3 linked regions of the Homo sapiens genome follow. The main gene of each other region encodes a partner of the protein of the gene in region 2 in a complex. Links are inferred from orthologs where the notes say so. Each region holds a gene or a part of one and is shown on either strand. Other genes may lie near its edges.

What was found.
Region 1: the proteins of WDPCP (region 2) and INTU are in contact, whole or in part, in a cryo-EM structure (PDB 7Q3E), measured with the Mus musculus proteins. The link is inferred for Homo sapiens from one-to-one orthologs. Residues at the interface, in NP_663400.2 of Mus musculus: Phe3, Cys4, Leu5, Ile24, Leu51, Ser54, Arg55, Asp56, Lys93, Leu385, Ala386, Glu387, Asp388, Tyr389, Ile427, Lys446, Leu447, Gly448, Ile449, Leu450, Thr451, Arg452, Gly453, Leu455, Leu462, Gln463, Ile465, His466, Tyr467, Gln487; in NP_780724.3 of Mus musculus: Val481, Gln484, Val488, Asp491, Ser495, Asp496, Glu498, Ala499, Ala500, Asp501, Ser506, Glu507, Asp508, Arg513, Arg514, Thr517, Ser532, His533, Leu534, Pro535, His574, Tyr593, Glu610, Gly613, Cys614, Ala615, Ser616, Lys617, Ser653, Pro654.
Region 3: the proteins of WDPCP (region 2) and FUZ are in contact, whole or in part, in a cryo-EM structure (PDB 7Q3D), measured with the Homo sapiens proteins. Residues at the interface, in NP_056994.3 of Homo sapiens: Arg55, Ile57, Asn75, Lys78, Leu82, Glu418, Asp419, Arg420, Leu421; in NP_079405.2 of Homo sapiens: His293, Glu372, Glu373, Pro374, Arg379, Gln397, Pro399, Thr400, His401, Gly402, Ser405, Leu406.

Annotation. Positions count from the first base shown.
Region 1 is NC_000004.12:127,628,957-127,635,977, reverse strand, and holds the start of INTU (protein inturned), read right to left. Parts: upstream 3,022-7,021; 5' UTR 2,944-3,021; coding exon 2,798-2,943; intron 1-2,797. UniProt on the Homo sapiens protein: Plays a key role in ciliogenesis and embryonic development.
Region 2 is NC_000002.12:63,431,459-63,438,479, forward strand, and holds part of WDPCP (WD repeat-containing and planar cell polarity effector protein fritz homolog), read right to left. Parts: intron 6,550-7,021; exon of another isoform or gene 6,426-6,549; coding exon of another isoform or gene 6,404-6,425; intron 6,097-6,403; coding exon 5,963-6,096; intron 2,479-5,962; coding exon 2,287-2,478; intron 1-2,286. UniProt on the Homo sapiens protein: Probable effector of the planar cell polarity signaling pathway which regulates the septin cytoskeleton in both ciliogenesis and collective cell movements.
Region 3 is NC_000019.10:49,810,272-49,818,208, forward strand, and holds the start of FUZ (protein fuzzy homolog), read right to left. Parts: upstream 3,022-7,937; 5' UTR 2,836-3,021; coding exon 2,725-2,835; intron 2,466-2,724; coding exon 2,344-2,465; exon of another isoform or gene 2,238-2,343; coding exon of another isoform or gene 2,176-2,237; intron 2,065-2,175; coding exon 1,980-2,064; intron 1,429-1,979; coding exon 1,360-1,428; intron 1,197-1,359; coding exon 1,092-1,196; exon of another isoform or gene 1-1,091. UniProt on the Homo sapiens protein: Probable planar cell polarity effector involved in cilium biogenesis. May regulate protein and membrane transport to the cilium.

The sequences.
Region 1 (7,021 bases), on a different chromosome or scaffold from region 2:
ACTATTAATGGGGGCAACAACATGGATGAATCTCAAAGTAATTATGCTGAATAAAAGAAGGCAGACAAAAAAGAACATTCATACTGCACAATTCCATCTTTATGAAACTTTAGAAACTACAAACTCCTATAGAGTGACAAAAAGCAGATAAATGGTTATCAGGAGAGGCATAAATGGACTTAAGTAGGTACATGGGGAGACTCTTAGGCGAGATGGATATGTTCATTTTCTTGACAGACGTATACATGTTAAAACATCAAATTGTACATTAAAAATATGTGCAGTTTTTTGTATATAAATTATCCTTCAATGAAGCTATTTTTAAAGTCCCAGAAAAAAATTTAAAGGACATACCTCCCTTCTCCAGCCAATCCTTGTGTTTTAGGTGGAAGTTCCTTAGCTTTAACAGCTAATATCTCATTTAAAATGATTCCTGTTTCTCTCCATCAGCCAGTTTTAAAACTGATGTAACAACAACAAAAAATTCACTTTGAAAAATTAAAAATCCAAGTCACAACATTGACAAACTCTCTGTAACATGAACTAGGCATATTAGCTGGTAACTTGGCATTGTTGCAGGTGAATGTGTGATTTCTGTTATCTTAATGCTAAAACTAGCTAATGGCTCCCTCAACCCAACCAACCCACCAGTATTATCTCGGAAGCCTCCCAGGGTATGTGCCCATGTGTCAACTTAAGACATACTGCAGCAATATAAACTCTTATTCTCTAACAAACCTAAAACAAACCTATTAAAAGAACTCTACCAGAATTTACCATAATGTAATTTTATCTCCAAGATGATAAACTTTTAAATTCTATATTGACAATCACATACAGCTCAGGTACAAAGCATGTATGAAACAGTAACTTCTAAAAAGAACACGCAGTTAACTAAAACCTTGAAAATTCAGGATACTTTATGTGAGTCAATATGCAGTACAACTTCCTTAGTAAGCTTCACGTAGTCCATGAAATACAATAGGAAATTCATGTCTTTGCTTTAATGAGAAAGACTAAGGTTGGCATTCCTGTGCCTTTGATTAAAGAGTGGTTCTGTACAAGTTGGGAAGGCCACTGTTTGTAATGATGACTGCAGCTTAGGGAAGTAAACATCTACCATAAGGGAAGAACCGAACATAAGCCTTCCTGGTAAGTTCAGCAAATTAACCCTCATGTCCTACAAATCAAGAAGGGACAGACTTAAAATTTGAAACTTGGTAGGACTTGAAATACAGACCAGCAAAACATCTTATGATAGGGATTTTCTATACTTTTATTATTAGGAGGATAAAGACACTAGAACATGTGGCGTGATTAGTGACATGTGAAAAGCTTAATGATCATTTTTTAAAAGCTAAAATATAACATACATACATGTATTTTGAATCATGAAATACTTTTATTCTTTTAAGTGACAAGTTCTCCTATCACAAGGTCCTCAGATTGGTCATTTCCTAGGAAACAAAGTTCACTATTTTAATCCCATCAAAGTCATGGTGGCCCATTAGGTATCAGGCGTCTTGAATTCTCACACTGACAACACTCAGCTGTGCAACTATACATGAATCATAGATTCTTTCTGGGCTAAAAGTATGCGACTCTAAAATGTGGAGAAGCCAAGAGTTTGAGTCTTACACTGTCTATGGCTTCACATACCAAGACCAAATAAGGTTCTATGTAATTCATATTTCCTTCCAGCAGCCTTGTGTAATAATCATGAATTTTAAAATTATTTTTTTAATGCCTACAGCAGATTACAAAAAAATACGATATTTTAAAATTTGTTTAAGTCTTCAAGAATGTATTAAACAGGTTTCCCCACCATACTTTTAAAGGCAATGATAAAAATCTTTTACATACTGATAGGTAAAAACAATTGCCAAATAACAGTTGCTCCTACATACATATAAATGATTTGTAACTGTTGTTCCTAAATACACATAAAATGTCATCCTAAAACTGACCAGGTATGGTTGTCCATTACTGGGTTAGTTGACATTTTGGCACCAAAACTTTTTCACGATTAGTCATTCTCTTCAAGCTACTGCTAGTTGACTTTTCTAAAGTTCTTAATCCATAGCAGTAAGGGGTAGATTTTTCTTAAAAATGAAGTAGCACTGAATACTGTGAATCAAAATAACCTTTTCATGGCATTATTAAGAAAGTGAAACCTTTAGGTATCTGTATTTTTAAAAATTAAATTATGACGTAAAATGGAAAACAAGAAAATCATGGAGATGCATAGGAAAATACAGCAGAAATATCCAGAAGTGCTGAGAGGTTGTCCTTGATGGTGAGACTATGGGTGGGCGTTCCTTCTGTTATATAGCTATTCATTTCCATAACAGAAAAAATCTACATAAATTTAACAACTGCCTTATAAAACGCGTAGGGTGTCTCTCCACTCCAAATACTAAAGAGATTAAGCCACAAAGGTCACACCAAAGAATCAAGACACTGCGATCGAAACAGAGTTTTTTGAACGCTGTTACAGATATATCCTCCTATGGCCTAGACAGAGCCCATGACCAAAAAGAGGAGATTCTCCTCATCTAAGAATCATTGAAAAAACAAAACAAAACAAACAAAAAACAACCTACAGTAGCAAAGAATGGCATCGTCATTTCTGCTCACACCACCATACAATGGAACGTGGTGCAATTAAATCCCACTTATTATAGAACCCCAAATACTCGATTCCAACCACGCCAACACCCTTGCAGTTCCCCCAGCCCACGTGTATATTCTCTGGATTGATGGGATGGGATTAATTGTCCCTCTTTGAAAACCTTACTCATAATCGCTACTCGCTGAGGAATATGAACCCGAGTCGCTGACCCGATCTTCAAAATCATAGTCCTCATCTTCTTCTTGTGAAGAGGGGTCTCCAGGGAGCTCGTCTGAGCTCGGACGCGAATCGCACGAAGCCACAGAGGCCATCGTCAGGAATGCAATAGCTACGAGTGGAGTAATTCAAATCTCGCAGCTATAGCTTGCTAAGGCCGCCATGTTGCCTCTGCTTGGGAAGGGGCAGAGGCCATGTGACCACCAATCCTTAGCTGCAATTGGTGGCAGGTCGCGTTGCCAGGGAGACGGAGAAGCTTCCCAGAAGAAACAGGGAGAACAGAAAGCAGCCAATGGGCTGAAACTTCCAGGAGGGCTTCTCAGTTGGAAGGATAGAAATAGCTAAAACTTCACCGCTTACGCTCTCCGGAACGCAATTCCTTAGAGCAGCATAACCTGTTAAAACAGGCGGAGATGCACTGGGCTTCTCACCTTTTTCTTCCAGTGCTGGATATCCAGTTTGCTCTTTGTCCTGTGTTTCTAATGCCTAACAGCTGTCGGTCAGCCTGGATTTCCTTCGAGGTGAAGGAAACCGCACTTTACCTTTCCTTAGGACCTCATCCGTGCAAGTAATGGACGCTTTTAAGCAACGCGATCTAGGTGTTAATGTAAATACGCTCCATTGTTTTATGGGTTTCATATTGTTTCGCAATTGCAAACATTTTCACGGTTATCCCAAGTGGGTATTGTAGAGTGCCACAAATGAGTGGCAATCCTGTGGAATCAACTTCATGTTCATTTTCTAACTCAAAATTTTATAATCTAATTAAGTGTTCTCATTATTAAAGTTGGAAGTGTAAACAGGTAAAATCTACCTGTTATTTATGAATACCTATATCAAGTATTTTTTAAGTACAAAAATAACAGCTAGCATTGATTGAGAGTCAGCCTTGGCTCTGCTCACTTTATTCATATACAATGCTGAGCATTCACATACTATGAAGTAAATATTTTCTCTATATTAAATAAGGAAACTAAGCTTTAGAGAAGTTATGCATCTTACTAATGGTTACATGGCTAGCAGTCAACAAAGTCAACCAAGAAATGAACCTAAGTCAATAACCATTACATGAAATTTCCTCCCTCAGAACCCAGTAATTCAACTATTAGATATCTACTCTGAGAAAGGATGCAAATTTATAAAATTTGTAAAAGTGAAAAGCTGAAAGCAATCTTAAAATGTCAAATAATGGGGGAAAAGTTAAATATATATAAAATATGATGATTATGATTTTAACTAGAATGTGTTCAAAGAGTAAAGCATGGGGGAAATGTTCATGTTGCAGCGTGTAAAAAAAGGATATAATGTTATTTTATGATCTAAAAGGCTGGGTGCTGGGGATTCTCTAATGGGCAATTATAACATAGTGATAAGTATTACAATAAATACAAGGTTCTAATGGAATATCCAGAAAAAACCAAAGTAGTATACGTGGGGCCATGACAAATTTCTTAGAGGAAGTATTAATTTATATTGTTATTATGGCATGGTTCCAACAGAGAAAGAGTAATGGGAGATGAGTCATCACATGGCCGGTATGGGTATATGCATGGAGAACTCAAAGGAACCTGAATTGTAGCTGTTGCAGGGGCAGAAAAACTCTACCTCCATCTTCTTAGGGTCCCAGCTGGGCCTGAGAATTAAACTTACCTAAAATAGATTAACAAAAGAAAAGCAACTGGAACTTGTTATACAGATGTTGAGGCCCTGCTCCACATCAACAGGATCAGAATCTCCAGTGGAGGGGCCTGGAAATCTCTATTTCAAACAAGTGCCCCCTGTGATTCAGCAAACTTGGGGAACTGCCCTAAATTTTCTCTCAGTTCTGTGCTTCATCTATACAGGCCAACTGGCCATTCCCTGAATAGGCTGGAACCCACTCCCACCTCGCAAATTTGAGCCTGGCAGACAGACCTCTCTCCTTGCTCTAGAATCCAAGTTTTACATGGCAGGGGAGCCCTCATAAAGAAATGAAGACCCAAAGAAGCAGTTAGAGTCAGTTAACTTATATACTGGATTGGACAAAGAATAGTTAGTTGTGAAGAAGCAACTAAACTAAATTGGGAAGCTTAAAAGATAAGTTATTTTAACAAGGTCTGTACAGAATTCTCTTGGTTTCACTTCTATGCCCTTGAGAATAAGAATGTTACATTTTTCTAGTATAGGGAGGGTGTCTTTCACATGGGAGCTTCATCTGTTGCTTTTAAGAAGCAGCACAAAGGCACTTGCTGTTTTTCAAGTGTATTAAACTTAAATGGCCAGGATAGTATATTTTACCTTCCTCACAGCCAAACAAGCTGCAGTATGCAGCTTATACTTTTAAGCTGAAGTTTAGTTGTATTTACATTAACTGTACATTACATGTACAAATATACATTAAACTATGTACATTTGAATTTGTATATTACATGTACAAATGTACATTAAACTATATACATTTGAATTTCCTAGGTTTTATGGTTTTGTTTTAATTTCTAAATGTGTTTTTATAGTGTTATAACAGCGATTACATTTTGTAATTTATTTGTATTAATTCATAAAATTGTTTTCATCTTATATAGGAGCTATAAAGCACAGATTATACCTCATTTATTTAAAATTATAATTAAAAAACTTAAGTCATCCATGGAAATCCACAATAGTTTTTCCTTAAAAGAGGTCTATATGTTACTAAAGTTGAAGAACAGGAGGAGGAGTTTGTAAAGGGGTAATGGGCAAAAGGAGTGTCAGAGGCATTTGAACCAGAGCGACTCCATCTTGAATAGGGGCTGGGTAAAATAAGGCTGAGACCTACTGGGCTGCTACTCAGGAGGTTAGGCATTCTTAGTCACAGGACAAGATAGGAGGTCGGCACAAGATACAGGTCACAAAGACCTTGCTGATAAAACAGGCTGCGGTAAAGAAGCCAGCCAAAACTTACCAAAACCAAGATGGCTACAAAAGTGACCTCTGGTCATCCTCACTGCTCACTATACGCGAATCATAATTAGAGTACAGTGAGCAGTGAGGATAATGAGCATTAGTTGCTAAAAGACACTCCCATCAGCATCATGACAGTTTACAAACGCCATGGCAATGTCAGGAAGTTATCTAATATATTCTAAAAAAGGGAAGACCCCTCAGTTCTGGGTACTACTCCCCCTTTCCCAGAAAACTCATGAATAATCCACCCCTTGTTTAGCATATAATCAAGAAATAACTATAAGTATACTCAGTCAAGCAGCCCATGCCGCTGCTTTGCCTATGGAGTAGCCCTTCTTTTTTCCTTTACTTTCTTAATAAACTTGCGTTCAATTTACTCTATGAACTTGCCCCGAATTCTTTCTTGGGTAAGGTCCAAGAACTCTCTTGGGGTCTGGATTGGGACCCCTTTCTGGTAACAGGAGGTCCTTGAGGTGGTAGGAGGGGATAGCATCCAAGGCACAGAAGGAGGGATATGACCTCCCTGGACACCTCTTCCCTAAAACTAGAAGAAAGAGCCAAAGAAGGGTGCTGGTGTGGATGGTGACTTGCCAGTTTCAGGCAGGAAGCTGAGGCAGTCTCCATGTGACAGTGTTTATCGTCTGGTAAGTAGGCTGCAACCTTGCCAGCTGAACGTGATGGAGGAAGTAATGGGGTCGGAAGTTTGAAGAAAGTGGAGACAGGAAGGAAGGGAAACAAATATTTCCATTAGCATTGAGATCCAACAAAAAATGTATTACTTTTAAAATCAGAGAAACAATATTATTTTAAAAAGCTGGAGTCCCTATACTCATTATTTTGAGTTTCATGGTAAAATATATATGCTTACTTTCACCACAATCTTAAACATTAGAAATGATTTAAGATTCCATTTCAAAATAAAAAGTGCTTTAGTTACCTCTTTAATAAGTTAACCTTTCCTTGTTTTAAAAGCAACTTATTGGAAGTAAAAAATAAAATAAGAAATTAAAAAAGGACATTTACAAATTTTAGGAAAATATCACATTTTCTTCCTACAAATTTTTCATCAATTTTTTTTTGTAAGCATCTAGTAGTTTCATACCCTGCCTCATAAACCTTGCATGGCACCTCCTTAAATAGAGAACAAAGTCCAAACTGTGTAGCTTCTTTTAAATTTTTTTCTCCAATTCTACAAACAATTGAACACCAATTCAGAATTAAATGGTTTATTCCATGTTACATCGTAAGTTA
Region 2 (7,021 bases):
AGGCTGTTTTCTTTTTTTAGTTTGAATTTTAGGGTTTAAGAGCATATTGTATCTTTATTCTGATGATTAGTCCAAGAAGTCCCTTGGCTGCTACTGAAAAAAAAAAAAAATTAAAGGAATATGCCTGAATACTACTTTAATAGACTGGTACTTTTGGTTCACGATATTCTAAAAAAAATTCTATACTTCGTATTTAAAGATTATGTCTTCACACACACACACACACAAGAAAAACAATTAATGCCCTAGAAATTTCTTCTACAAGATTATACTTTTTGCATAATGACTTTCACATGAAGCTCTAAAAAAGAAATCTTTACAAATTTTTCCAGTTGCTAGAATAACTAAAAGGGCCAATTCCTAAAACAAAAGCTCTTGAGAAAAAAATGAATTATATATCTTAATAAGATCAAAAGGGAGGAAATTATACAATCAGTGGTGAATAAAGAATCATGTAGAAATTTGCATACAACTTTATGAAAAAATATTCAAATGCATAAAATGAATAATTTTCTATAAACACCAATTGTGGAAAAAAAAGGAAAAAAACAACCCTTTAAAAATGGAATCAGTAATGAAAAAAATCTACCCTCCTTAAAAGACGTCACACCCAGGAAGTTTTACAGGTAAGTTTTATCAAACTTTCAAGTATCAATTCCTTTTGGTACTGTTACAGAGAGGAGAAAAGGAAAAAGCTAGCCAAATCGTTCCACAGAGCTAATAATATCAACTCTAGAAAGGTGAGATAAGAAAGGATAATTTTAAAAAGTAAAATTGTGTGCCAAGCTCATATTTAAGCACATTGGGAAGCCTCTTCAATCTTCCCTACTTAACATCTCTCTAAGTAGAATCGATCACCACTTTCTGTTGGGTCCCACTATAGCTTACACATACTCTACCCACAGCACCATTAACACTTTAATGCACTTACACATTTTCATATTTGTCTCTTATTGGCAGACACTAAGATCCTTGAAGGCAGGGACAGTTTCTTATTCATATCCCCTGGTATGAAATACAGTGTTTTTCATACCAGGGGATATGTAGTTGCTAAATGACATGGCTATTTCAAGTAGAAATACCATTAATGTGCACATGCAGAGGTAGGAAATAATGAGTCAGCAAGTAAATTCATTTGACTAAGACATGGTTTATGTAAGGAAACAACACTGGAAAGGCAGGCCAAGGGCAATCAGGGTGGGTTTTTTAGTGCTGAGGCTGAGTTTGGTTTTAGCATCTACAGAAGACTTTTAAGCAGGCAATGTCTAAATCAGATCTGTGCTTCAGGATCCATAGAAGCACTTTTTAGACCTGTTAGAGACCTCGAGGTGACCTAACTGAATTAAATCAATCGTTTTAAAAATAAGAAAACTAAAGTCAGATAGGGTAGGTGATCTACTCAAAGGCACAGAACACAGAATTAGCTAGAAGCAGGCAGAAGCTTAGAGTATTCATCTTATCTCGAATACTAATTCTGGGAAATACTCCTTAAAGTCTAAAAGATAACTGATTTAGAGGCAAATATAGGAACATACTATTTTACCTACATAAGAAAGTGGGGGAGAGGGAGCTTTTTTTACAGCTATAATACAACAAAACAGAGAATTCTGTAACCAAAGTACTAGTACAAACTGAAAATACACATAGGTTCACATATATGAATGGATGATCAAACCATTATCATGAATTGATAGAGGATACTGTCCTCACCTCATAATCTATAGCTCTCCTTAAATATCCTTGCGCCAAATGCGGTCTGGCACGACAGGGCCTTACACAATATAGGCATTTAACTAATGTTTGTTAATTGACTGAAGTCTGAAGAGAGTAATTGGTAATAAAAGCTTTCACAGGCATGATATCATGAGTAAACAGTAATAATAGAACTAATAATGATAATAACAAGAGTCATAACAGTGAACAGTGATTCAGGGCTTACTATACATTGATATTGCTCTAAATGCATGTATTAACTCATTTATCATCATGAACTGTATTTTTCAAATAATGAAACTATAGCACATACAAGTTAGTAACTTGGTCAAGGACAGGAAGCTACATAGTGGCAGAGCTAGCATTTGAACCTGGAAGCCTGGACTCTTAATTACTACACTATTCTAGCCAGCCCTGGAATTGTCTGGGTATCTTCTAGATATGATACTTTTTGAATATTTGAAAAACATAAATTATAGGTAAAAAATATTCACATTTATTTCAGAATAGAAAATCTAATAATTCTATTTTATTTACACTTTATTAAAATGTACATATTTGTTTTAGATTTACCTCTAGTCTTCCTTGAGCATAACCCAGGAGGAGTAGATTGGCTCTGTCCTTCTCAGAAGAAATGGGGGCCCAAGGCCAAGCATCATCGTTGACCAGTGGCCACCAGCAAACAACTCTATCATGAACACAGTTGATAGCTAGATGTCGCTCTGTTGTCTTGTTTATTGGGCCGGGTATTTCATAATAGAAAATCTAACAATTTTAAAAAAGCATACATGAAACATTTCTTTTAAAAGATGCAAAATCCTCAAGTATTACAAAAATTAAAGCATCTGGAAATGTAGTTACATGCAAGTAAATATGCATGTTAAACATGTGCGTAAGAAGGTGTCAGAATTTACCAAATTCTTCTGACACATATATAAAAAAGACATATGTTCAAAATTCTCCCCATTTTTAGCAAAGGAAGGAAAAGGAGAAATGTGAGCTAGGAAGAAATTGAATGTAGCAATTCCAATCAATACCAAAATGTACAGTCATGGTTGCCTGACAGCATCGACCTACACATATGATTTAGGACCAGCTGTATAAAATGACAAGTTCAGTACTGCTGACCAAGAGAGTCTCACTACTGTTTAAGACATAACGTGTTAACAATGACTGACAACAAAAAAAGGAAAAACAACTTGAGGCAAATATCTCTTTAAAGAATATATGCGACGTATACACATATATTCTGCATAAAAGGGATAAGCCACAGCATCATGCATAAAAGTTTATGCAGCTTCTGAGAATTATGCTTCTCTTTCTTAGGCAGGATTTGTAGAATTTATTATTCAAACTATGTTATTTTGGAACATGGTTATTTGAAAACATAAGCACGGCACCATCTGTGTGACACATGCCAAGGAAATATAGATTGCACCGTATTTCTGCTTAAGGAATTAATGGAAGGTTGATAGCTTGGAAGAAAAAAAAAACTATCTTGCCATTGCTGGTCAGCAATAATCGAACCACTTTCTGGGGATTAAGCGCATGGCTAAGCCTACTGGACCAGACACTAGCAAAGGGCAGGGGGTCTTCTTATCAGAGAAATGCTTCTGGAGCCAGTCTCACTACATGACAGATTGCTTTCATATTCCTGTCTGCAAGGCAACAAAGGATGGCAGTAATGCGATAATGCCAGAGTGCAACGGGTGTTAAGAACCCGTTGCATTTATGTATTGTATTTAGTAAATAATCAGGCTCATCCAAATTGTGATCTCACCACTCAACCAAGGCCATTAAAACCAAGGTTAATGCTTTAATAATCCTCTGCTATTTTTTTTCAATATGGTCAAAAGGAACCCTTTTCTATTTGCATGGCCATAATATTATTGACCTCTTCATCCTCTGAATGCACATCAAAAGGAACTGAAATCAAAGTAATTACCAGTGTTGTTCTCTCATGGTAAACATTTAACTCCTCACAGTGTCCCTTCACTGTTAAATAAATTGAATTGGATTTTTTTCAGATGTAGACAGGAAAACTTGTTAAAGGTCAATAGTTTAAGGATGTTTACTCTGCAATTTTCTTTGCCAAAATTATGTCAATCTGAAAGAATTAAACTATGGTACAGCTGTAAAGAAAAGCAAAAGTACAATACTCTATACCACTTCCTTGTTTTAAAATCCAAATGGGCAATGACAGACAACACAGATGTACTTTATGCTATTAAGTGTAATTTCTTATATTTAAGCTCTCAATATCATTAAGTCTTCTTATTTGAGAGAAATACCACGATGAAATTGCTAAGTACTTAAAAATACACATACATTATTTCAATGTCTGATTTGCTGCATAAGTGTGTTACCTATGAATTTCTAGATGAGGAAATTGAGTCACAATGAGTGACTGACATTTTCAGTTGTCACATAATGCAAATCACTTACGTTATGAAATGTTAGGAAATTTCATGTTTCCTATGAGTTTAATATTATCAGTATTCTGTCATGATGACCAAGAGGGAATGTAAAATAAACAAATTTCTTAAAATATCCTTCCAATGGACAAATAGCAGATTTGACTAAGTATTAAAAATATACATTTTAAATATTAAACCAGGAAATGAAATTAATGAGTTTTCCGAAGGGAAACAGATTACTTCTCTAATGTATAGGAATGACATGGAGTGCCAATGTTCCTATTTTCCTAAATCCAAAGGCATATTCGAATAAGCAAGTAAGTAATTCCCTTACTTAAGGTTTAAGGACCCAAACGCTAGATGTCTTTTCCTCATCTTTTCATAAGAAAAGATGACATCTTGACAGTTTCTCTCTGTTCTCAGGTAGCTACTACTCTTCAGTTGAGAAGATTTTATCAAGCTATCACACCTAAGATAAAGAAACTACTCATCCAGAATTTTATATATACTTACTTTAAATGGTTTGAGTTAATGCACACTGGTGCATTTTAAAGACCGATCAATTTTAGTAAATAAACAGTATTTCAAGTAAATCTGAAGTTAGCCATTCTAGAACTAACATCCCTTTAAGAATGCTAATACCATTTTTGTTTTGGCTAACCAAATATAATAAGTAGCACTAATTTCCAGTTTTAAAAAATCTATATTAAGGTTTTATAGAAGTTTCACAAAGCTGGCAAACGAAACTAGATGGTAGTTTATCACCACAATGAAAAACTCATTTATTTTATTCCACATTAAAAATCTTTTTTTAAGAATAAATGTTCCTACTAAATAAAACTAAATCCTCCCATGCTACCACCACCTCATTCATAAGTAATAATCCCAAAGGGCAAAAGGTTAGGTTAAATACTACTTTGCCAAAAACACACACACATTTCAAGCTACAGAGCTAGCTTCTCAAACTCTTTGCTCTTGCTACAGATGCTCTAGGTATGGCATAAGTGTGCATCTTTTTTAAGGAAGCTGTATATCAGCTCTGTTCCCAGTGAACAGTGAACTGTCTCAAATCCACATCATAGAGGTTGGATCAATCTTGCAAACACAAGTCACTGTTGAAAAGAGGCCTTGAACTGAAACAGCCTGGAAAATGTATTACTCATCCTAGCAGAGAATATGCCTTCCCAGCAGTTAAAATGTAATGTGGCAAAACTCAAATTAAACACATCACTTAAAATAAAAATTCTGCCTTAATAGATGTAAAGCTCCTGATACAGGAAGGAAACAAATTACCTGGAATTAGTGAAGGGTGAGATACTAACACATGAAGATTTCTTTTTGCATTTTGTCCAGTTATAGCTGGAGGGGGAGGGTTCTTCCCCCTCCTTGTTTATTACACTTTTCTATTAACCTTTCAAAGTGCCTTCATCTTTCTTTTCTTGTGAAGTGGAAAGTATCCTACCCTAGAAAGCTATCCTACCCTAGAAAGATGATATGGGGTCTTAGGGGAAAATGAGAATGGTATATATACTACCACTGGCACGAAAACCATTTTCAAAAGTGTAACTTGCCTCTATTATCTGTCTTTGATGTCTATAAATACTATATAAATTGCTCCAAACGTGCCATTGTTAGACAACCCCCCATAGTGAGAGTATAAAAGAAAACTTAGGATGGCCACTGTTTACAGTTAATTAAGCTTAATCCTGTAATATTTCCAGTTTTTCTGAAATCCAGAAATGTTGAAGAATAATGAGCAGAATACCAACTTATGTGATACTCTCATATACCTTAATAATTAATAATATGACTATATAAATCAAAATCTCTACCTTATAATCCAAGGCTGAGAGTTTTTCCAGTCTTTTGTTTACATCAGAAGACTCCATCTTCTTGGTAAACTGAATAAAACATAGTTTGTTTTGTGCCAAAAATGATAAGATGATAAAACTGTCTGTGAGAAGAGCTAAAAAACATAATTAGATATTACCAAGTTAGAATAAAATAATGAATAGATTTTTCCACTGATATGTTACAAAAAGCTATTTTCAAACATACATATTAACTGAAATCACTAAAGTCTCTTGAATATCATTATAGCATTTTATAAAAATATTAAAGATATTAGGAATAAACAATAATTGTCAATCTAATCATATGTGATTTTTTTTCCTGTGACTATTTCAATATACACTGATATTTGGGGACCACCAATGGATGAGATGTATTTAGAAACAGGGCTATAAAGGTATTTTTAAAAAACTATTTCGCACCTGAATGTAGAGACGAAAACATTCCATTTTATTTGTGCTAAGAGTTTAATCCTATGTTTACATGATAGAAACCATCCGAGGATAAAGTGGATTTATTAGGGGATACTGATCAGTGTTCTCTACCAGTCTATTTATTTAAAAAATTTTCATCAGTGAATCTTCTTTTAGGGGTATACAAGCTGGATGAAATAAAGCATATTATGACCAATATGTACATTACATAAATTAATATCTAATAATGAAAATTAGCACAATATTTCTACAGCTTTGTCACCAAAGCACACAAGTAGGTAAATAACTAATATTTGTGGATTATATAAAGGGCTATTAATGTTACATAAAATTATTGATAAAAACATGTTACAGGAATTTGAGAAATGTTTTGCATTGTTCCTAGCATAAAGAAATTATTAAATGTTTTATACATTTTCCTTTACTTTCACACCCCTGACCATACAAACAGTGACCAACAGTGGATCTACACAATTACAAGAGAATCTGGAGAACTGCCAAGAAATCACATTGTTACCATGTTCCCATGAGAGTGTATTATTTTGGGTACAAATAAAAGAAATACATGAAAAAGGATAACTCAGAGACACGAATTGTGCTGAAAGT
Region 3 (7,937 bases), on a different chromosome or scaffold from region 2:
TATGGGAGGCTGAGGCGGGAGGACTGCTTGAGCCCAGGAGTTCGAGACCAGCCCGGGCAACTTAATGGAAACCCATCCCCAACCCTAGTCCATCTCTTAAAAAAAAAAATAGCTGAATGTCAGCCGGGCGCGGTGGCTCATGCCTGTAATCCCAGCACTTTGGGAGGCTGAGGCGGGTGGATCACGAGGTCAGGCGTTCAAGACCAGCCTGGCCAACATAGTGAAACCCTGTCTCTACTAAAAATACAAAAAATTAGCTGGGCCAGGCGTGGTGACCAGCGCTTATAATCCTAGCTACTCGGGAGGTTGAGGCAGGGGAATCGTTTGAACCCAGGAGGCAGAGGTTGCAGTGAGCCAAGATTGCGCCATTGCACTCCAGCCCCTGTGACAGTGTAAGACTCTGTCTCAAAAAAAAAAAAAAAAAAAAAATAGCTGAATGTGGTGGCACAGTGCCTATAGTGTCAGCTACTGGGGAGGCTGAGATGAGAGGATCACTTGAATCCAGGAGTTCAAGGCTGCAGTGAGCTATGACTGAGCCACTGTGCTCTAGCCTGGATGACAGAGCAAGACCCTGTCTCAGAAAAGAAAGAAAGATGGCCCAGGCGCAGTGGCTCACGCCTGTCATCCCAGCACTGTGGGAGGCCAAGGCAGGTGGATCACCTGAGGTAAGAAGTTCGAGACCAGCTTGGCCAACATGGTGAAACCCTGTCTCTACTAAAAATACAAAAAATTAGCCGGGCGTAGTGGTGGGCGCCTGTAATCCCAGCTGCTCGGGAAGCTGAGGCAGGAGAATTACTTGAACCCGGGAGGCGCAGGCTGCAGTGAGCCGAGATGGTGCCATTGTACTCCAGCCTGGGCAACAAGAGTGAAACTACGTCTCAAATAAAAAGAGAGAAAGAAAAGAAAAAAGAAAAGAAAGAGAAAGAAAAGAAAAAAAAAAAAGAAAAAAGATTCTTCTGGGACCAGGTGGGGATAGGACTGGAAGCTGAGAGGATAGGAGGAGGTTGGGACAATGGTCCAGAAGAAAGAGGATGAGGACTGAGCCAGGGCCAGCAGAACAGGTGTAAGAGTTTCCATAGCATCCCCAGTACCTGCAAGAGGGACCCCTCTGGAGGAATCACGCAGTCCACACACTGGGTCAGGTCCCCGATGAGCTCCGAGTCCCCCAGGAAGCTGTCGATGAGGCAATAACTGGCCTAGGAGAGGAAGAAGGGACCAGCCTAGGATTCAAGTGGGCCCAGGGTCAGACAACCAAGAACCTGTGGGACCAGGCTGCCCCAGGGGCTGCTGGGAACTGTAGTTCCCAAATGGCAGTGCCCAGGTATCCTAACTTCCCACCCTCATGTCCTGCAACCTCACCCTCAAGTCCTTCTTCAGTCTCTCCACGTTGCGGATATTGGTCAGTTCTTCAAGTCCCACAAGAAGGACCTAGAAGAATCATATAGGAGAGGATGGGCGAGGGGCTGGGACTTGAACTCCTGGGTCTGAAGGAAGAGGGGGCTGGGACTCCCACTTCTGGGTCTGGGGACTGGGGAGTCAAGATTCCTGGGTTCTGGCCGGGCGCGGAGGCTCATGCCTGTAATTCCAGCACTTTGGGAGGCCAAGGTGGGTGGATCACTTGAGGTCAGGAGTTTGAGACCAGCCTGGCCAATATGGTGAAACCCCGTCTCTACAAAAAATACAAAAATTAGCTGGGCATGGTGGCACGTGCCTGTAATCCCAGCTACTTGGGAAGCTGAGGCACGAGAATCGCTTGAACCTGGGAGGCAGAGGTTGCAGTGAGCCGAGATCAAGCCACTGCACTCCAGCCTGGGCAACAGAGCGAGACTCCGTCTCAAAACAAAACAAACAAACAAACAAAAGATTCCTGGGTTCTGAGGAAGGAAGTGTTGGTGGTCTGCACTCCTAGGTCTGAGGGAAAAGGATGCTGAGATCTCAGATTCCTGGTCTGGGGAGAAAAGAGGACTGGTGAGTCTCACCATGGCTCCAAACACCATTTGGAGTAGTCTCTCCAGCCTCAGCTCAGAGATGCCCACCTCAGATGACAGAACAATGAGGGTGATGCTGTGGAATGGAAGTGAGAAGAATGAGTCAAGGCCTGGGGAATCAGGAAGGGGTATGTTGGAGTCCGCCCATTGATCCTAGAACACCAGATACATCCTCTCTCAGACCAACCTGCCTTTCTTATAGAGAACATCAGGGATCAAAGAGGGTAACTGGCTTGCTAAAGATCCCATAGCCAAATTAACAGCTGCTTTTAGAGAGCTGGAAGGCCTCCGGGGTCATCTTCAACAGGGACTATCACCCAGGCCCTGTCCCTGTCCCACGTTCCCTCCTGGGGACCTGTCATGGAAGCTTTTCCACACCACAGTCGTGTTCTCGGTCCTCGCAGAGCTCAGCTGCACCTCCAGATTCTGCCCAAACATGTGGACTCCATTGAGGGAACCGATGACAGAGAACGGGAGCTAAGGAGGGGTTAGGGACATCAGACAAGAGCACCCCCCCATCCCCTTCCCCCTTAGGACCCAAGTGTGCCAGCTCCCAGCCCCATCCTCTTTCCATATGACCTGGCAGTGCCTCTTTGGGGAACCAGGCTTATTGGTCCATTGCCTCCTCGGTCCTACAAATTCAACACTGAAACTTCCCCAGCCCCTACTGCCTTGAAGACCCAGAGTCAAAACACCGAACCCCCTTCGGTTTAGATACAGGCGTCCAAGGCCCCACCTGCTGACGGGCGGGGGCGCCGCCGCGACTGCTCCTGCAGAATAGGGGGACCCCGCTGGAGGCCGCGAGGCACAGCAGATGCACAGTGCCGCCCGTCCCCTCCTCCCCCATTTAGGACTCCCACCGCGGTCCCTCACGTGGGGACTGTCAGTGCGGGTCTTGGAGCATGGCGGTAATCAGAGTAACTCGGCCTGTGGTCCGGAGCCGCCAGAGGGCGAGATGGGGAGCTGATTGGAAGAGGATTAACTTCCCGCCTTCTTCACCCAACTCAAACAGACCCTCAAACCCTATTCAGGCACCTCCCCCAAACCCATTAGGTTCTCTTCCGCCCTAGCCGGAAGTCACGGTACCCCTAACAAAGATGGCGGCAAATTGAATTTGCAAAGCTTTCTAGTTTCTCCGAGGAGGTAAAGAGAACCAAGAAGCCGGATTGAAGATGATGACTGCGCCAAGGCGTTGCCTAGCCACCATCCTGTAGGCTTTGATGATTTACATTCTAAACGGAAAAAACAGCTGTGCCCGGATCAAAGATTGCGATGGTCCCAAAGCATTGCCTAGCAACCACATTCCCTGTAGGTTTCCAGTATATAGTAGTAAACAATGTGCCCTACTCAAAGATGGCGACCGTGGCGGGGCGTTGCCAAGCAACCACCATTCAGCCTGATATCCATTCCAAGGCTGTAAACAGCTGTGCCCTGCTCAAAGATGGCGGCACGTCGAAGTCCGAGCACCCTCCTTGGGGCGAAATCGAGAAAAACACCATCTCCCCTACAACCTTCGAGGGTGGTTGAGTCCAGCGATCGTTGCCTAGTAACCACTAAAAAAAAGGTTGTTTTTGTTATTAGAAAAAAGAAAACAAGGAAATCCTTTATTTTCCAGAATAATAAAAATAATATCATTTCTGTAATGAATTTATACATGATAGCATACCATGTAAAATGTGAAAAATCCCTTCCCCAATTTTTTTCCTAAAATACAGTTTAACGTAGACTATTCATACGTTTTCACAAAGATGATCAATATACTAACATTTCCACACTTTCTTTTTTGCCATGAAAAAGTATGTCTATTTCATCTTAATAATGTATTTTTATAATCTATTTTATGGATGTGACAAATTGATTTGACCAATTCTGTATTGATGTACATTAGGTTGTTGAACTCCTCCAGACTAGCCAACTAGTGCTGGGACAGCATTTTACTGACTTTTTAAAATGCCCTTATGAATATTTTTATTATTTTACACAGGCAGCATTTACTTGTAATGACAAAAGTATTTATGATTCATTTTTCCCTTCCTCTTCCTTCTTGCAGATCAGCCCATCTTTCTAGCATAATTTTTAATTTTCCTACTTCCTAAAGTACATCTTTTTCTCTTTTTTTTTTTTTTGGGAGAGGGGACAGGGTCTCGTTCTGTCGCCCAAGGTGGAGTGCAGTGGAACCATCTCGGCTAACTGCAACCTCCGCCTCCAGGATTCAAGCGATTCTCCTGCCTCAGCCTCCTGAGTAGCTGGGATTACAGGTGTGCCCCCACCACGTCCAGCTAATTTTTGTAGTTTTTGTGGAGACAGGGTGTCGCCATGTTGCCCAAGCTGGTCTCAAACTCTTTGGCTCAAATGATCCACCCACCTCAGCCTCTCAAAGTGCTGGGACTACAGGCAGGAGCCACCATGCCTGGCCTAGGTACCATTTTAATCTTCCTTCTTGCCTATTGATATTTTTTTTCCTTTCTCTGGATTACTTTTATCTTCCTTACAACTTTATTAAAATGTTAGTTACACAGGCATAAAAGAGGGGGCTGCTCTAGATGAAAAGAAACTTGAGACATAATGTCTAAATATGTGTGTGGTCTTTGTTTGGATCCTGATACAAATAAACCAACTGTAAAAACACATTTTGAGACAATTGGAACGTTTGATTACACACTTACTGTTGGATGATACTAAGAAGTTAATTTTGTTACAGGTAACAATGGCATACTAGTAATGTAAGAAAGTGTTCATAAAATTGGAAAGATGCCTGCCAAGCACACAGGAGTAAAATCATATGATTGTATGGATTTGAAGGCTTCAGCAGGCCAGGCGCGGCGGCTTACGCCTGTAATCCCAGCACTTTGGGAGGCCAAGGTGGGCGGGTCACCTGAGGTCTGGAGTTCGAGACCAGCCTGACCAACATGGAGAAACCCCGGCTCTACTAAAAATACAAAATTAGCTGGGCGTGGTGGCGCATGCCTGTAAACTCAGCTACTCGGGAGGCTGAGGCAGGATAATCGCTTGAACCCAGGAGGTGGAGGCTGCCGTGAGCCGAGACTGTGCCATTGCACTGCAGCCTGGGCAACAAGAACAAAACTCCATCTCAAAAAAAAAAAAAAAAAAAAAGCTTCAGCAAATGAGACTGTCTCAAAAAAAAAAGGGCTTCCGCAGGCTCACTGCCTATAATCCGGGCACTCTAGGAGGCCAAAACGGGTGGATCACCTGAGGTCAGGAGTTTGAGACCAGCCTGGCCAACATGGTAAAACCCTGTCTCTAACAAAAATACAAAAATTTGCCTGCGAGGTGGCACACACCTGTAGTCCCAGCTACTGGGGAGGCAGAGGCAGGAGAATCGGTGGAACCAGGGAGGCAGAGGCTGCAGCGAGCCGACACTGCGCCACTGCACTCCAGTCTGGGCGACAGAGCGAGATTTTGTCAAAAAAAAAATAATAAAATAAAAAAAAATAAAAATAAAAATAAAAGATAAAAGAAAAATAGAAACCCAATAAAAAATAATTTTAAATGATAAAGGTAAAAACCTTTATCATTAGGCTTTCTGTAAGTACTTTTCAATTGGTGATTATTATTATTATTATTACTTTTTTTTTTTTGAGACAGCGCCTCGCTCCGTCCCCCAGGCTGGAGTGCAGTGGCGCGATCTCTGTTCACTGCAAGCTCCGCCTTCCGGGTTCACGCCATTCTCCTGCCTCAGCCTCCGGAGTAGCTGGGACTACAGGCGCCCGCCACCACGCCCCGCTAATTTTTTTTTTTTTTTTTTTGGATTTTCAGTAGAGACGGGGTTTCACCGTGTTAGCAAGGATGGTCTCGATCTCCTGACCTCGTGATCTGCCCGCCTTGGCCTCCCAAAGTGCTGGGATTGCAAGCATGAGCCACTGCGCCCGGCCTGTTTTTTTTGTTTTTTTTGTTTTTTTTTTGAGACAGTCTCGCTCTGTCGCCCAGGCTGGAGTGCAGTGGCGTGATCTCGGCTCACTGCAACCTCTGCCTCCCGGGTTCAAGCGATTCTCCTTGCCTCAGCCTCTCGAGTTGCTGGGATTACAGGTGGGCACCACGACGCCCAGTGATACTGACCTCGTGATGCGCCCGCCTCTACCTCCCAAAGTGCTGGAATTACAGGCATGAGCCATCTCGCCCGGCCGAAGATTATGTTTTAAAATATTTACTGGCCATTCAAAATTTTGTGTGTGTGTTTGTGTGAAACTAGTCAGGTTTCTTTTTATTTATTTATTTTTATTTTTTTTGAGACGGAGTCTAACTCTGCCGCCCAGGCTGGAATGCAGTGGCACAATCTCAGTTGACTGCAACCTCCGCCTCCCGGGTTCAGGAGAATCTCCTGACTCAGCCTCCCAAGTAGCTGGGATTACAGACGCCCACCAGGACGGCTAATTTTTTTATTTTTAGTAGTTAGAAGGAGTTTCACCATGTTGGCCAGGCTGGTCTTGAACCCCTTACCTCGGGTGATCTGCCCGCCTTGGCCTCCCAAAGTGCTGGGATTACAAGCGTGAGCCACGGCGTCCGGCCCTGGTCAGGTTTCTTTCTATTAAAACAAATATAAAGTGGCAGGGCACGATGGCTAACACCTGGGATCGCTTTAGCCGAGGAGTTTGAGACACGCCAGAGCAACACAGTGAGACCCCATCTCTACAAAAAATTTAAAAATTAGCTGGAAGTGGTAGTGCGCGGCTGTGGTCCCAGCTGCTCCACAGGCTGAAGAGTGGCTCCAGTGCGAGTAGAGGCTGCCGTGAGCCAAGATTGGGCCACTGCACTTCAACCTGCACAACAGAAAGAGACCCTGCCTCAAAAAATAAAAATTAAAATTAAAAGATAATAGTAATGAAGTGTTTCTATTTTTCTATATTGTTATTCATCAGTAAGATTTATTTGCGTAGTACATTTCTGTCAACAAACACGCTAGAAAGATTTTCCCAGTTGGCCGTATATTTTTCAACTTGGTTTATACAGTCTTTTGGGAAAAATTAATGAAGACTACGTTTTCTAACTTTGCTGTAGTGCTAAGAAACTCCATGGCAGTCATTAAGATTTTTTCCCTTCAGATAGTTTTCGGGTTTCATTTGTTGCACTTACATTTTTAATCCACCTGGAATGTATTTACGTTCTAAGCCAGTTTCTGGCTCCTCTCCCAGAAAACAACGCTCAGGTGTTGCTTAGCAACCCGCACTTGGTTTGGTGTTCGGCTTCTTTTCGGGGGGGAAAACAACTGCCCTCCCTTCCAAGTTGAGGACGACCTTAAAGCGTCGCCTAGTAACCTCGTTTCCGCCGATGTGATTGGATCCTTCTCGCGTCCCTCCCCTAGTCCCCACGCCCGAAAGAACAGAACCAGAAACTTAATCTAACGGTTACAAAACAAGGGCAGCGGGCCCGGCGCGGTGGCTCACGCCTGTAATCTCAGCACTTTGGGAAGCCAAGGCGGGCGAATCACTTGAGGTCAGGAGTTCGAGAACAGCCTGGCCCACAGGGTGAAACTCTTTCTCTACTAAAAATACAAAAATTAGCGGGGCGTGGTTGCGGGCACCTGTAATCCCAGCTACTCGGGAGGCTGAGGCAGGAGAATCGCTTGAACCCGGGAAGCGGAGGTTGTAGTGAGCCGAGATCGCGCCACTGCACTCCAGCCTGGGCGACAGGGCGAGACTCCCGTTTCGAAAAAACAAACAAACAAAAAACAAAACACAAAAACGAAAACAAGGGCAGCGTACGCGTTGCATAGCAACCAGGTCTCCTGCCCCTCCCTTTGAGACAAGAGGCGGACCTGGACGCCCCGCTCAAAGATGGCGGCTGACTGAGCCGCTTTCAATTTATTTAGCTTTTGACAATAATTCCGTCTAACCCATCAGGCCCCTAGAAGGGCTAACTATGCCCTTTCTGAGTCTTCCACGCGGTGGGGGCGAAGGAGGATGGAGCTAGAACGAAGCCTCAGCGCGTGCC